Homo sapiens: one gene and its partners. The protein of the gene in region 2 interacts with the protein of the main gene of each other region in a pairwise test. Each region holds a gene or a part of one and is shown on either strand. Other genes may lie near its edges. The genes, in order: GNB5, MVD and EIF4EBP1.

The links.
Region 1: the proteins of MVD (region 2) and GNB5 interact in a two-hybrid assay, tested with the Homo sapiens proteins (one large-scale study listed by BioGRID and IntAct).
Region 3: the proteins of MVD (region 2) and EIF4EBP1 interact in a two-hybrid assay, tested with the Homo sapiens proteins (one large-scale study listed by IntAct).

Annotation. Positions count from the first base shown.
Region 1 is NC_000015.10:52,114,586-52,118,525, forward strand, and holds the end of GNB5 (guanine nucleotide-binding protein subunit beta-5), read right to left. Parts: 3' UTR 515-3,940; downstream 1-514. UniProt on the Homo sapiens protein: Enhances GTPase-activating protein (GAP) activity of regulator of G protein signaling (RGS) proteins, such as RGS7 and RGS9, hence involved in the termination of the signaling initiated by the G protein coupled receptors (GPCRs) by accelerating the GTP hydrolysis on the G-alpha subunits, thereby promoting their inactivation.
Region 2 is NC_000016.10:88,656,585-88,660,231, forward strand, and holds part of MVD (diphosphomevalonate decarboxylase), read right to left. Parts: intron 2,137-3,647; coding exon 2,066-2,136; intron 1,446-2,065; coding exon 1,331-1,445; intron 999-1,330; coding exon 852-998; intron 664-851; coding exon of another isoform or gene 562-663; intron 1-561. UniProt on the Homo sapiens protein: Catalyzes the ATP dependent decarboxylation of (R)-5-diphosphomevalonate to form isopentenyl diphosphate (IPP).
Region 3 is NC_000008.11:38,033,529-38,037,175, reverse strand, and holds part of EIF4EBP1 (eukaryotic translation initiation factor 4E-binding protein 1), read right to left. Parts: intron 1-3,647. UniProt on the Homo sapiens protein: Repressor of translation initiation that regulates EIF4E activity by preventing its assembly into the eIF4F complex: hypophosphorylated form competes with EIF4G1/EIF4G3 and strongly binds to EIF4E, leading to repress translation.

The DNA of each region.
Region 1 (3,940 bases), on a different chromosome or scaffold from region 2:
ATTGATTCATGGACAGTCGCTGATGGTTTAGCTGGATGGTCAGGGCCTTAAAAAGAACAGGACTGGAAGATTGGTGACAAGAAAATCTTGGAAAGAGATATGTGGCTGAATCCCTCCGAATGGGCAGACTGAAGATATCTGCATCTCACCTGAATGCCCACCAAAGGGCATCCACTGCAGAGAAGACCCTGAATCAGATGGACAGAATTACATGCTCTGTGGCTGTCAGCCAGCCTCTCTATGCAGCTGCTGTGGTGTCTGCTCAACGGGCCGATGAACAAAGAGCTCTTGGCAGCAGGGACAGAGGATATGTATGGGTCCAACAACATGGAATTCTCCCTCCAAAGGCTGAGCTGGCTGGTGCTTCTGCTGAGTGCCTAATCTGCCAAAGCAAATGATTTCTTACAGTGAACTAAATAAGTGTTGTTAGAATATAAATTTCTGTACATCAAATTCCCATTTGAACTGGTTTTGACGTCTTACTGGTTTCCTTATTAATCAGTGAGTTAAAAGCTTGGATACATGTTCATGTTTTATTTGCAAGACAGTCATGATTTTACCTTTTTGTACATTAAACTTTAGCAGCAAGAACATTGTTTTCTCTTAGATTTGCAGTAGCTTTGGGGTAAATGATAAATCCTCTGGAACTGCCATTGGTAACTCAACAATGATGAAAAGAACTAAACAACAAATGAATAAATTAACCTCAACATAGAATTTCCAGTCCACACAATATGAGGCAGTTTGTAATAAGACTCGGTGAAAATCCTGTCTCTGCAACTTGGAAGCTGTGCAGCTATGGGCAAGTTATTCAACTCTCCTAACCTCAATCTCCCCATCTAAAAATGGGGCATCACGGGGCTGTCACAAGGATTACATGAATCGGTATATACAAAGTGCTTAGCACAGTACCTGGCACACAGTAAAAGGTTGTCACTCCACAGAAACTTTTATTTGTAAATGGTAAATCCTCTGGCAACGGTGACTATGCTCACTTGCCCCATTATCAGCCAAAACCAAAATGTGACAATATTGGTCTTACCTATGTGGTTTCTGTTTTATTGAGAATAGCTAGTGACTGCTTATTATTTTTTCCACGTTTTAAGTAACAGCTTTATTGAGATGTAATTCATATACCAAAAAATTCACCCTCTTACAGTCCAGTGGTTTTTAGTCTATTCACAGAATTGTGCAATCACCACCATCTAATTCAGTTCCCCCCGGAGAAACTCAGTGCCCACTAACCGTCACTCCTCACCCTAGCCCTAAGTGACCACCAATCTGCTTTTTGTCTTTATGAGTTTGCTTATTAGGACCTTTCATATACATGGAATCCTACAACATGTGGCTCTTTGTCTCTGGTTTCTTTCCCCTGGCACAATATTTTCAAGGTTCATCCATGTTGCAGCATGTGTCCACGCTTTCTTTCTTTGTATTCCATTCTGTGGATGCGCCATATTTTGTTCATCGATTCATCCACTGTGGAACATTGGGGCTGTTTCAGCTTTGGGCTATTATGAGTAATGCTGCTATGAACATTTGCATTCAAATTTCTGTGTGGACATATGTTTTAATTTCCCTTGGGGAGGCTGCCAATTACCGTGGAAAACACACAGGTTGGAAACAGTGACCTCTGCTTCATGGTTCCTGGTTTCTGACAAAGTTAATCTTTCACCATTGGTGTGCTGGTTAGATAACCTTGGGTTCAAAGACAGACATTTCCTGTTGTCACAGTCTTTACATAAACGCTCATACCATACTTACGATTAGTTGTTTATGTGGGTTAAATTAACCATGGAATCACTCCTGATCCCATCTCCTTACTAGAGGGTCTGCATCTTTTTTTCTGGTCCTATTTTTAAAAATAATGATCTTTAATTGACACATAATTGTATGTATTTATGGGGTACAGTGTGTTATTTTGATACATGTATACAATGTGTAATGATCAGGGTAATTAGCATATTAATCCCTTAAATGTCTATCATTTGTGTTGGGAATGTGAAAGTTGTTAGAATTCAAATAGAGTCACTAGTGTTTTAAAAAAACAAACCATGACAAATAGAGCTGGGGAGGCCATGAAGAGGGGATTCTCATGCTTGTATGCCTAATACCAAAAATGATCACAAAAGATTCTGCAAAAATTACAACCTTGCACATAGGCTGCTGCAACCTCACACAAAAATTACTTCTGCAAAGACATCTGCCTAGCAACTGCCTGTCCAACCTCGGACTGGTGTGACCTTTGTTATTGATATTTGTAGCCAAGGATAATTATTTCAAAACCATTATGTAATCCTCCTCATTTTTTCCTTTAAAAACCTTTGTTTTTCTTTTTTTTTTTCTTTGTTTTTTTGAGTCAGAGTCTCGCTCTGTCGCCCAGGCTGGAGTGCAGTGGTGCCATCTCGGCTCACTGCAAGCTCTACCTCCTGGGTTCATGCCATTCTCCTGCCCCAGCCTCCCGAGCAGCTGGGACTACAGGCACCTGCCACCACGCCCAGCTAATATATATATATATTTTTTTTTAGTACAGACAGGGTTTCACCGTGTTAGCCAGGATGGTCTCGATCTCCTGACCTCGTGATCCACCCGCCTCGGCCTCCCAAAGTGCTGGGATTACAGGCGTGAGCCACCGCGCCCAGTCACCTTTGTTTTTCTTTACCTCCTGGAATATGCACACAGTTTACTACAGCACACATATTCCTGTTGCAATGCCCTACTTTTGATTAAATATCTTTAGCGAGCCTGTCTTTGTTATTTAGGTTGACAGGAACATTCAAAATTCTCTCTTCTAGCTACTTGAAAATACACAGTAAATTATTGTTAGCGATAGTCACCCTACAGTGCCGCCAAACACTAGACTCCTATCTTGCTGCAAATTTGATTCCATTAACCAACTCCTCCCCACCCCCTGCTGCATCCTTTTTCTAATGACATGAACATATTCAGTCATTTCATTTCTTTCACTGGGGTTGGCCCTGTGGCAGCCCACGGGAGGCCAGAGTCCCCTGTGGAGACTGACCAACCCTGAAGGCCAGCCTGGCTCCAGCCAAGTGCTGTCTAGAAGCAGGAGTCTGTGGTATGTCTGGAAGAGTGACCCAATTCTCTCCGGTCACGGATGAGAGGGCAAGTGGTTTAGCATGGCAATCCTTACAAAGGATCCACAGAGACAAGATTCACTCGCGGCCTCCCCAGTGGGCCTCCGGCTCAGATTTCCTGGCCCACCTCAGGCCCGCCCAGTCCAGATCTCAGGGCAGGGCCCTGAAGGCGCAGTGCAGGAACCTGCCATGGGTGGGACGATTCTTCTCAGCAGGCAAGTTTGGGAAATGAAGATCTACAAATCCCCACTCAATCAGCTCTTCCAGGCTTGGGAATGGCCTGGGCCTCAGCCCCAGTCTTCTACCCCACCCACTGTGCCTTCCCCAGGCTTCCAGGCGTCCTCTTTTGAAAGGATTTTCAGGTCACAGGCCTCAGCTGGTCCCTAGCCCTTCCGACTGCCTCTCTGGGACTTCCTCCACCGACCGGGGCTGTCCCAAAGCCTCCTCTGAAGGCTTTCCCTAGGGTGGCTCTCCTCAATCATCCTGTCACCTCTTTCTTTGCCAAGCTCTTCCAAGGCCCTTAGTGGTTTCTGGGAGGTCTCACACAGAGGGGCTGGAAAAGGGCTCATTAGCCCAGATCAGCTGTTCTCAAAGCAAGATCCAGGGCCCCCGAGGGTCCCTGAGACCCTTTCAGGGGGTCCTCACGGTCAAAACTATTTTCATAATAATATTGACACTTTTTTTTTTTGTATGGGTGATTTTTTTATTTTCATCCTCTCAGGAATTTTCCAGAGACTACTGGCATGGGAGAAAGATCACCTTGATGGCTAATGGAACGTGTGCATCTGTATTCTTGTGTTTTATAACTTTTTCTCAGTCTTAATTTCTAATACAATAAATAT
Region 2 (3,647 bases):
TGGAAGGCGGGAGAAAGGCCCCCGAGGACACCCAAGCTGGGCTTTGAGGGTGGGAAGGAATTTTAAGGCTGTGTGGGGCAGGGACCGATGCCAGGACAGAGCTGGACTCCACAAGACGCGCCCCCTGCCCACCCAGCACGGGAGCCACCTTCTCCCCTCCTCCCACAGGGCTCCAGCAGGGCAACCCCACCTCCAGGTCTGGTCACCCACCCTGGTCACCGAGGGTGGTTCAGGGAAGGCGCAGGAGCCCAGGTGGGCCAGGAAGCGTCACCCCTGGAGTTGAGGGGTGAAGATGGTGTGAGACCACCACCGGGGGGACAGGCTCTGACAGTGGGTGGGAAGCTGCCAGCAAGTGGCCTGGGGCCAGCAGAGAGCTGGGTCCAGCGGGGCCTGCAACCAGCTGTGCCCATTGGAATCCTCAGTTACGTGAGCCACAAAATCATCGCTATTTTAGGGCTGAGCCAGTTTGAAGTGGTTTCTATCACTGACAATCTAGAGGGGCTCCACATACAGCAACGGGAAGATTTTTTTATTTTTTGTAGAGATGGGGGGGGGTCTCACTATGTTGCCCAGGCTGGTCTTGAACTCCTGGCCTACAGTGCTTCTCCCCCATCAGCCTCTTAAGTACTGGGATTACAGGCGAGAGCCCCACGCCAGCTGCAACTGGAAGATGAAAATGTTCAGATGTGCTCTGGGAAGAGACTGAACAACTCCAGAGAGGCCAGGGAGGCCTGGGGTGAGGGGATGCTCTTTTAGCCACGCCCAGCAGTGGGCTCCCTGACCCGGGAAGAGCATGAAGTGGCTCCTGCGCCCACAGCCCAGAACCCCTGCGGGTCTCTGTGGGCACCCACCTAGGCAGGCATAGCCCGCCGCTGAGGAGGCCAGGCCCGCAGCCGTGGGGAAGTTGTTCACCGATGCCACGTGCACCTTGCAGCTGAGGCTGGAGGGCAGCGGGTCCCCATCCCGTGAGTTCCTCCGCTTCCGGGCCAGGCAGCGGACTGCAGAGACAATGAGACAGCGTGTGGCCCAGCCGTCAGCACCCTGCCCGCCCTGCTCCTGCCCACCTGCCCGGGGTCACAGCTGAACACCAGGCCTCTGCCTGCCAGACTCCTCGTGGAGAGTTTCTTACCCGGGAAAACCCCAGACTGACCCAAGCCCAGCTGGTCATTGAGGTGGGCCACTGCCCTGGAGCTGGCGGCCCAGCGGGCATGTCTGGTTCCCAGCCACCCCGCCTGCTGCCTCAGGAGGGGCACAGAGGCAGAAGCACTTTCTGGATGCTCGGACCCTGCTGACAACAGGGAGGGATGGGCTTATGGGGACCCCAGCTCACTCTCCCGCAGGCAGGCCTGCAGCCGCGGCTGCCCCACATCCTCCTCCCGGCCATTCAGCCAAATCCGGTCCTCGGTGAAGTCCTTGCTGATGACGGCTGTTGTGGTGGTTTTTAACTGAAAAGGAAACCCAGGGCCACCTCAGAGGCCAGCATTGAGGACCGATGCCAGCCAGGTACCCCTTTCTACTGAGAGAGCCTCATGGCTGCCCACTCGAGCAAGGTCAGCCCTGCTGAGGGCAGGGGGGGAAAGGCCAGTCTCAGCTGGGCAGTGGGGAAGCCCGTGGGGGATGAAAGCGTGGGCCACACCTTGTGGAGCAACCAGGCCTTATCCTGAATAAAGAGACGGGGACTCCCAGGGGAGCCCCTGGGGCACGGTGTGCGCATGTGTGACGAGACCTGGGGGCACATGTGTGCTGTGCTCAGCTCTCCTAATACTGGGAGATGGAACAGACACTGCGTGCTGGCTGGGAGTCGTCGCTAGGCCATCTCATCCTAGCCTTTAGGTAAAAAAGTACCAATTTTTTTTTTGTTTCAGAGACAGGGTCTCACTCTGTCACCCAGGCTGGAGTGCAGTGGTGCGATCATGGTTCACTGTGGTCTCCAATGCCTGGGCTCAAGAGACTCTCCCCAAGTGCTGGGATTGCAGATGTGAGCCACCATACCCAACGGGTACCAACTGTTCTACAAATGTTCTGGAAATGGCACTGTGGTGTTTAGTCGTCAGTCCACACATACCTGGTCCTGGTGCAGAGTGACGCTCAGGGAGGAGTTGATGGGCAGAACCAGCTCTTCATCGCGCTTGCCCCCTGTAATGAACAGCCAGGGCCAGGCCGGTGGGCTTCCCGGCCCACCCTCCCCCAGTGTTCCCCACAGGTGCCCCCACCCCCCACCCACGGCCCCCATCCGCCTCAGTCCCGTCTCTCACCGCACAACCTGTGTGCCCCTCCTCCTGCCAGACCCCGGCCTGCAAGAACTGCTCCCACCCCACTGAGCTCAGGCTCCCAGAGCAGAGCTGGAGGCCAGCCAACCTCCGTCCCCGCTCCCCATTCCTTCATCGCTTCTACTCCAGCATCCGTGAGTGCCCAGGTGCGGATCGCTCCCACCGCGGCCTGCCTCCCCTCCACCTTCCCAAACAAAAGGAGCCCAGCTCTGAGAACTCCTCACATCTCACTGCTCATATGCCCCAGGAACATCCAGGATAAACCCCTTTCTGCCCAGCACGGCCATGGGACAGCACGTGAAATCAAACTTCCAGAAAGCCCGAAAGGAAACGTTTGCCCTGGGAGCGCTGCGTGGTGCTTCAGCTGAAGTCTTATTCCACGGCGGCTTCGCTAAGCACACCATCTGCTCGGTTTTGTGCGAGGGGAGGTCTCTGAGGATGGCGGACAGTTCCAGGGGTGATAAACGCGGACACCTGGCAGAGAACCACGCCCTGCAGCTCGCGAGGCTCTTTCACGCACAGCACTGAGCGGCCCCCCTTGCAGGCGGACGCCGCTGCCCTGACAGGCCGGGCGAACCTCTGCTTTCAGGAAGGTGGGCCAGGGGACTTCTCCCGCTTCCTCCCACTGGGGACAACTGAGACCCTGGACATCACAGGTGAGACTCTCACGGGTGACAGAGGGCGGCTGTGGGACAGTGCAGGGGGAGCCCGGGGCTTTCTTTTCTGCTTGCCCTAGACCTAGCCCTGCAGAAGCTGGAACTGCCAACCAAAGCCAGCCCTCCCTAGCAGGACCAGGAAGGGCAGCCTAGCAACACAGAAACAGACTCCTGGCCGGGCGCGGTGGCTCACGCCTGTAATCCCAGCACTTTGGGAGGTCGAGGTGGGCAGATCACCTGAGGTCGGGAGTTTGAGACCAACCTGACCAATATGGTGAAACCCCATCTCTACTAAAAATACAAAAATTAGCCAGGCTGTAGTGACGCACGCCTGTTATCCCAGCTACTCAGGAGGCTGAGGCGGGAAAATCGCTTGAACCTGGGAGGCGGAGGTTGCACTGAGCCGAGATGGCACCACTGCACTCCAGCCTTACTCCAGCCTGGCAACAGAGGGAGACCCTTTCTCAAAAAAAAAAAAAAAGAAAAGAAAAAAAGAAACAGATCCCTCCCACACTCCAGGCTGGAACAGTGCCCCGCCCCCTTTCCCTCCCTGAAGGAGTGGGGACTTTCACCTCCCCAGGAGTCATTGGAGAGCACACGGGAGACTGGACTCCCCTGACCTGCCGGCTCTTGTCAGAGGCCAAGCAGACACTCAGGAATTCCTGAGGGCCTGGTGGGGATGGGACAGCGTTGGTGGGGAGGGGAACCTGGACTTCTGCCT
Region 3 (3,647 bases), on a different chromosome or scaffold from region 2:
CTAACCTAGGGAACAAACACGTAAACAAAAACGTGTGATTCATTCGCTATGAATCATAATGGAGAGAGACCCCAGGCATGGGTCTAAGTCAGACCAGAAAGAAACAGGTTTTTCATGGGTTTGTTGGCACAGGCAAGAATCTATGTGCACAACTGAACATTTTTTTTTTTTAAAACTCACCTTAGAAAGCAATGTTCCTTTTTTTCAATATTGCTGTGCCTTCCCAGGCCAAGCACAGTGGAGCATGCCTCTAATCCCAGAACTTTGGGAGGTCAAGGCGGGTGGATTACTTGAGCTCAGGAGTTTGAGGCCAGCCTGGGCAACATGGCGAAACCTCATCTCTACCAAAAAATACAAAAATTAGCCGGTTGTGGTGGTGCATGCCTGTAGTCCCAGCTACTTGGGAGGCTGAGATGGGAGGATTGCTTGAGCCCAGGAGGTTGAGGCTGCAACTGCACTCCAGCCTGGGTGACAAAGTGAGACCCTGTTTCAAATTAAAAAAAAAAGAAGAAACAATATTGCTGTGCCTTCCTAACTCATCTTCCAGAACATGAAAATAAAGGTCTATATGAGAAAATGCCTCGCTACTTTATGTCAATGGATAAATATGGTATTGCTCTGCTGACCCTTTTTCCTCAGATTTGGCAATGAAGGACTTTTTTGGTCTTTTAGGAAGCAAAAAAATCAAACTCTCTCTCTTTTTTCTTTGAGACGGAGTTTCACTCTTGTCACCCAGAATCGTTCGAGTGAGTCTCGTGCCTCAGCCTCCTGTGTAGCTGGGATTACAGGCGCCTGCCACCAGGCCCGGCTAATTTTTTTTTGTATTTTTATTAGAGATGGGGTTTCACCATGTTGGCCAAGCTGGTCTTGAACTCCTGACCTCAGGTGATCTGCTTAGCCTCCCAAAGTGCTGGGATTACAGGTGTGAGCCATCGCACCTGGCCTCTCCTTTCAAATAATAAAAAACTAGAGGGTCAGACTCAGAAGCAAAGCATGACCCTGTCTCTACAAAAATAAATAGCCGGGTTTGTGGTCCCAGCTACTCGGGAGGCCGAGGCAGGAGAATTGCTTGAACTCAGGAGGCGGATGCTGCAGTGAGCTGAGACGGTGCCACTGCACTCCAGCCTGGGTGACAGAATGAGACTCTGCCTCAAAAATAAAATAAAATAGGCCGGGCGCGGTGACTCATGGCTGTAATGTCAGCACTTTGGGAGGCTGAGGCGGGCGGATCACGAGGTCAGGAGTTCGAGACCAGCCTGGCCAACGTGGTGAAACCCCATCTCTACTAAAAATACAAAAAATTAGCCAGGCGTGGTAGCGCGCCTGTAAACCCAGCTATTCGGGAGGCTGAGGCAGGAGAATTGCTTGAACCCAGGAGGTGGAGGTTGCAGTGAGCCGAGATCGCACCATTGCACTCCAGCCTGGGCGACAGAGCAAGGCTCCATCTTGAGGAAAATAATAATAAATAAATAAATAAATAAATAATTAGCTGGGCATGGTGGTGCGTGCCTGTCATCCCAGCTACCCGGGATTCTCCTGTCTCAGCCTGAACCTGGCAGGTGGAGGCTGCAGTGAGCTGAAATCATGCCACTGCACTCTAGCCTGGGCGACAGAGTTAGACTGCCTCAAAAATAAAATAAAATAAAATAAAATAATAAGGCCGGGTGTGGTGGCTCATGCCTGTAATCCCAGCACTTTGGGAAGCTGAGGCGGGTGGATCACCTGAGGTCAGGAGTTTGAGACCAGCCTGACTAACATGGTGAAACCCTGTCTCTAATAAAAATACAAAAATTAGCCGGGTGTGGTGGCACATGCCTGTAATCCCAGCTACTTGGGAGGCTGAGGCAGGAGAATCACTTGAACCCAGGAGGCGTAGGTTGCAGTGTGCCAAGATTGCACCACTGCACTCCAGCCTGGGCAACAAGAGCGAAACTCTGTCTCAAAATAATAATAATAATAAAAAGGAGTCTGGGGATTGGAGGGATTTTGGAGTGCTCTACACCAGGAACCCCCCACCAAATCTTTAATAAGGGACACAGTGTGGAATGCTTCCAACACTTTAAAAAATTTTATTTATTTAATTTATACCGACAGAGTCTCACTATGTTGCTCAGGCTGGTCTTGAACTCCTGGCCTCAAGTAATTTTCCTGTCTCAGCCTTCCTAATAGCTGGGATTACAGGAGTGAGCCACCGCACCCAGCTCCTTCAAACACTTTAAAAGGAAGCTCAGGTAAATGTGAGAAGAGGGTCCATCGTTTCTCCCTCACTGCATTAATGTCCAAGCTCTTTTAACCCATCCTTAATAATTTCTTCCCTCCATGTGACTAAGGCCTCAGGACATGGGCTGTGCTCTGGCTTTGGTGCCCAGCCTACATCCCCTTCTTCCCAGCACTGCCTGTTTCATGTCCAAAGACTTGGGAGCTGCTCCAAGGTAAGCTTCCTGGGCACAGACCTTGTTTGCTTAACCAAACAGGGTGCCATTAACACCTGCAGCCCTACCTGCTCACCTCGGATTCACCTTATCCAGGTACGGGTCTTTGGCACAACTGCCATCCAAGCCTGTATATAGGCTTCAGAGTCAAACATGCAACACGGAGCTGGGAATGTGGAGATTGATGAGGGAAAGTTTCTTTCTGACCCACTCAAAGGTTCTGCTGGCTAATGAGCTGTTTATGGTGTCGCTGGATATTTTTAAGACTCCACAGACTCAAATATTCATACATGACACTCCCTTCGGCAATTAAATTATCTTAAGTACTCTGGACAGCTAACCTCAGAGCAGAGCCTCAGTGTGCAAATGGTTAATGACCATGGAAAGCAAACTGGAGGCCAGGTGAGGTGACTCATGCCTACAATCCCAGCAGTTTGGGAGGCTGAGGTGGGAGGACTGCTTGAGCCCAGGAGTTTGAGGCCAGCCTGGGTAATACATAGAGACCCTGCCTCTACAAAAAAATAAAAAAATTAGCAGGGCATGGTGGCACGTGCCTATAGTCCCAGCTACTTGCAAGGCTGAGGCAGGAGGATCACTTGAGCCCAGGAGTTTGAGACTGCAGTGAGCTATGTTTGTGCCACTGTACTCCAGCCTGGGTGACACCATGAGACCCTGTCTCAGGAAAAAAACAAAAAAAGGGCCGGGTGCAGTGGCTCACGCCTGTAATCCCAGTACTTTGGGAGGCCAATGCAGGCGGATCACGAGGTCAGGAGATCGAGACCATCCTGGCTAACACGGTGAAACCCTGTCTCTACTAAAAACACAAAAAATCAGCCGGGCTTGATCGCGGGCGCCTGTAGTCCCAGCTACTTGGGAGGCTGAGGCAAGAGAATGGCGTGAACCCGGGAGGCGGAGCTTGCAGTGAGCCAAGATCTCACCATTGCACTCCAGCTTGGGCGACAAAGCGAAACTCCATCTCAAAAAAAAAAAAAAAAAAAAAGGAAAGCAAACTGGAGTCATAGGAATGGAGATAGTGCAACCCAACTGCTGCTTCTTTCCCTCCAGGGACAATCACTTGAGGGCCATTCCCAGCAGGAGTGACTGGGGGGTACTTACTCCAATGGTTTTTCCTGAGAAGCTGACAGTCCCTATAAGTAAGCAGGTGCAGACAGCCATGCAGACACTCTATCAAAAGCCTGGCTCTCCACACCACGA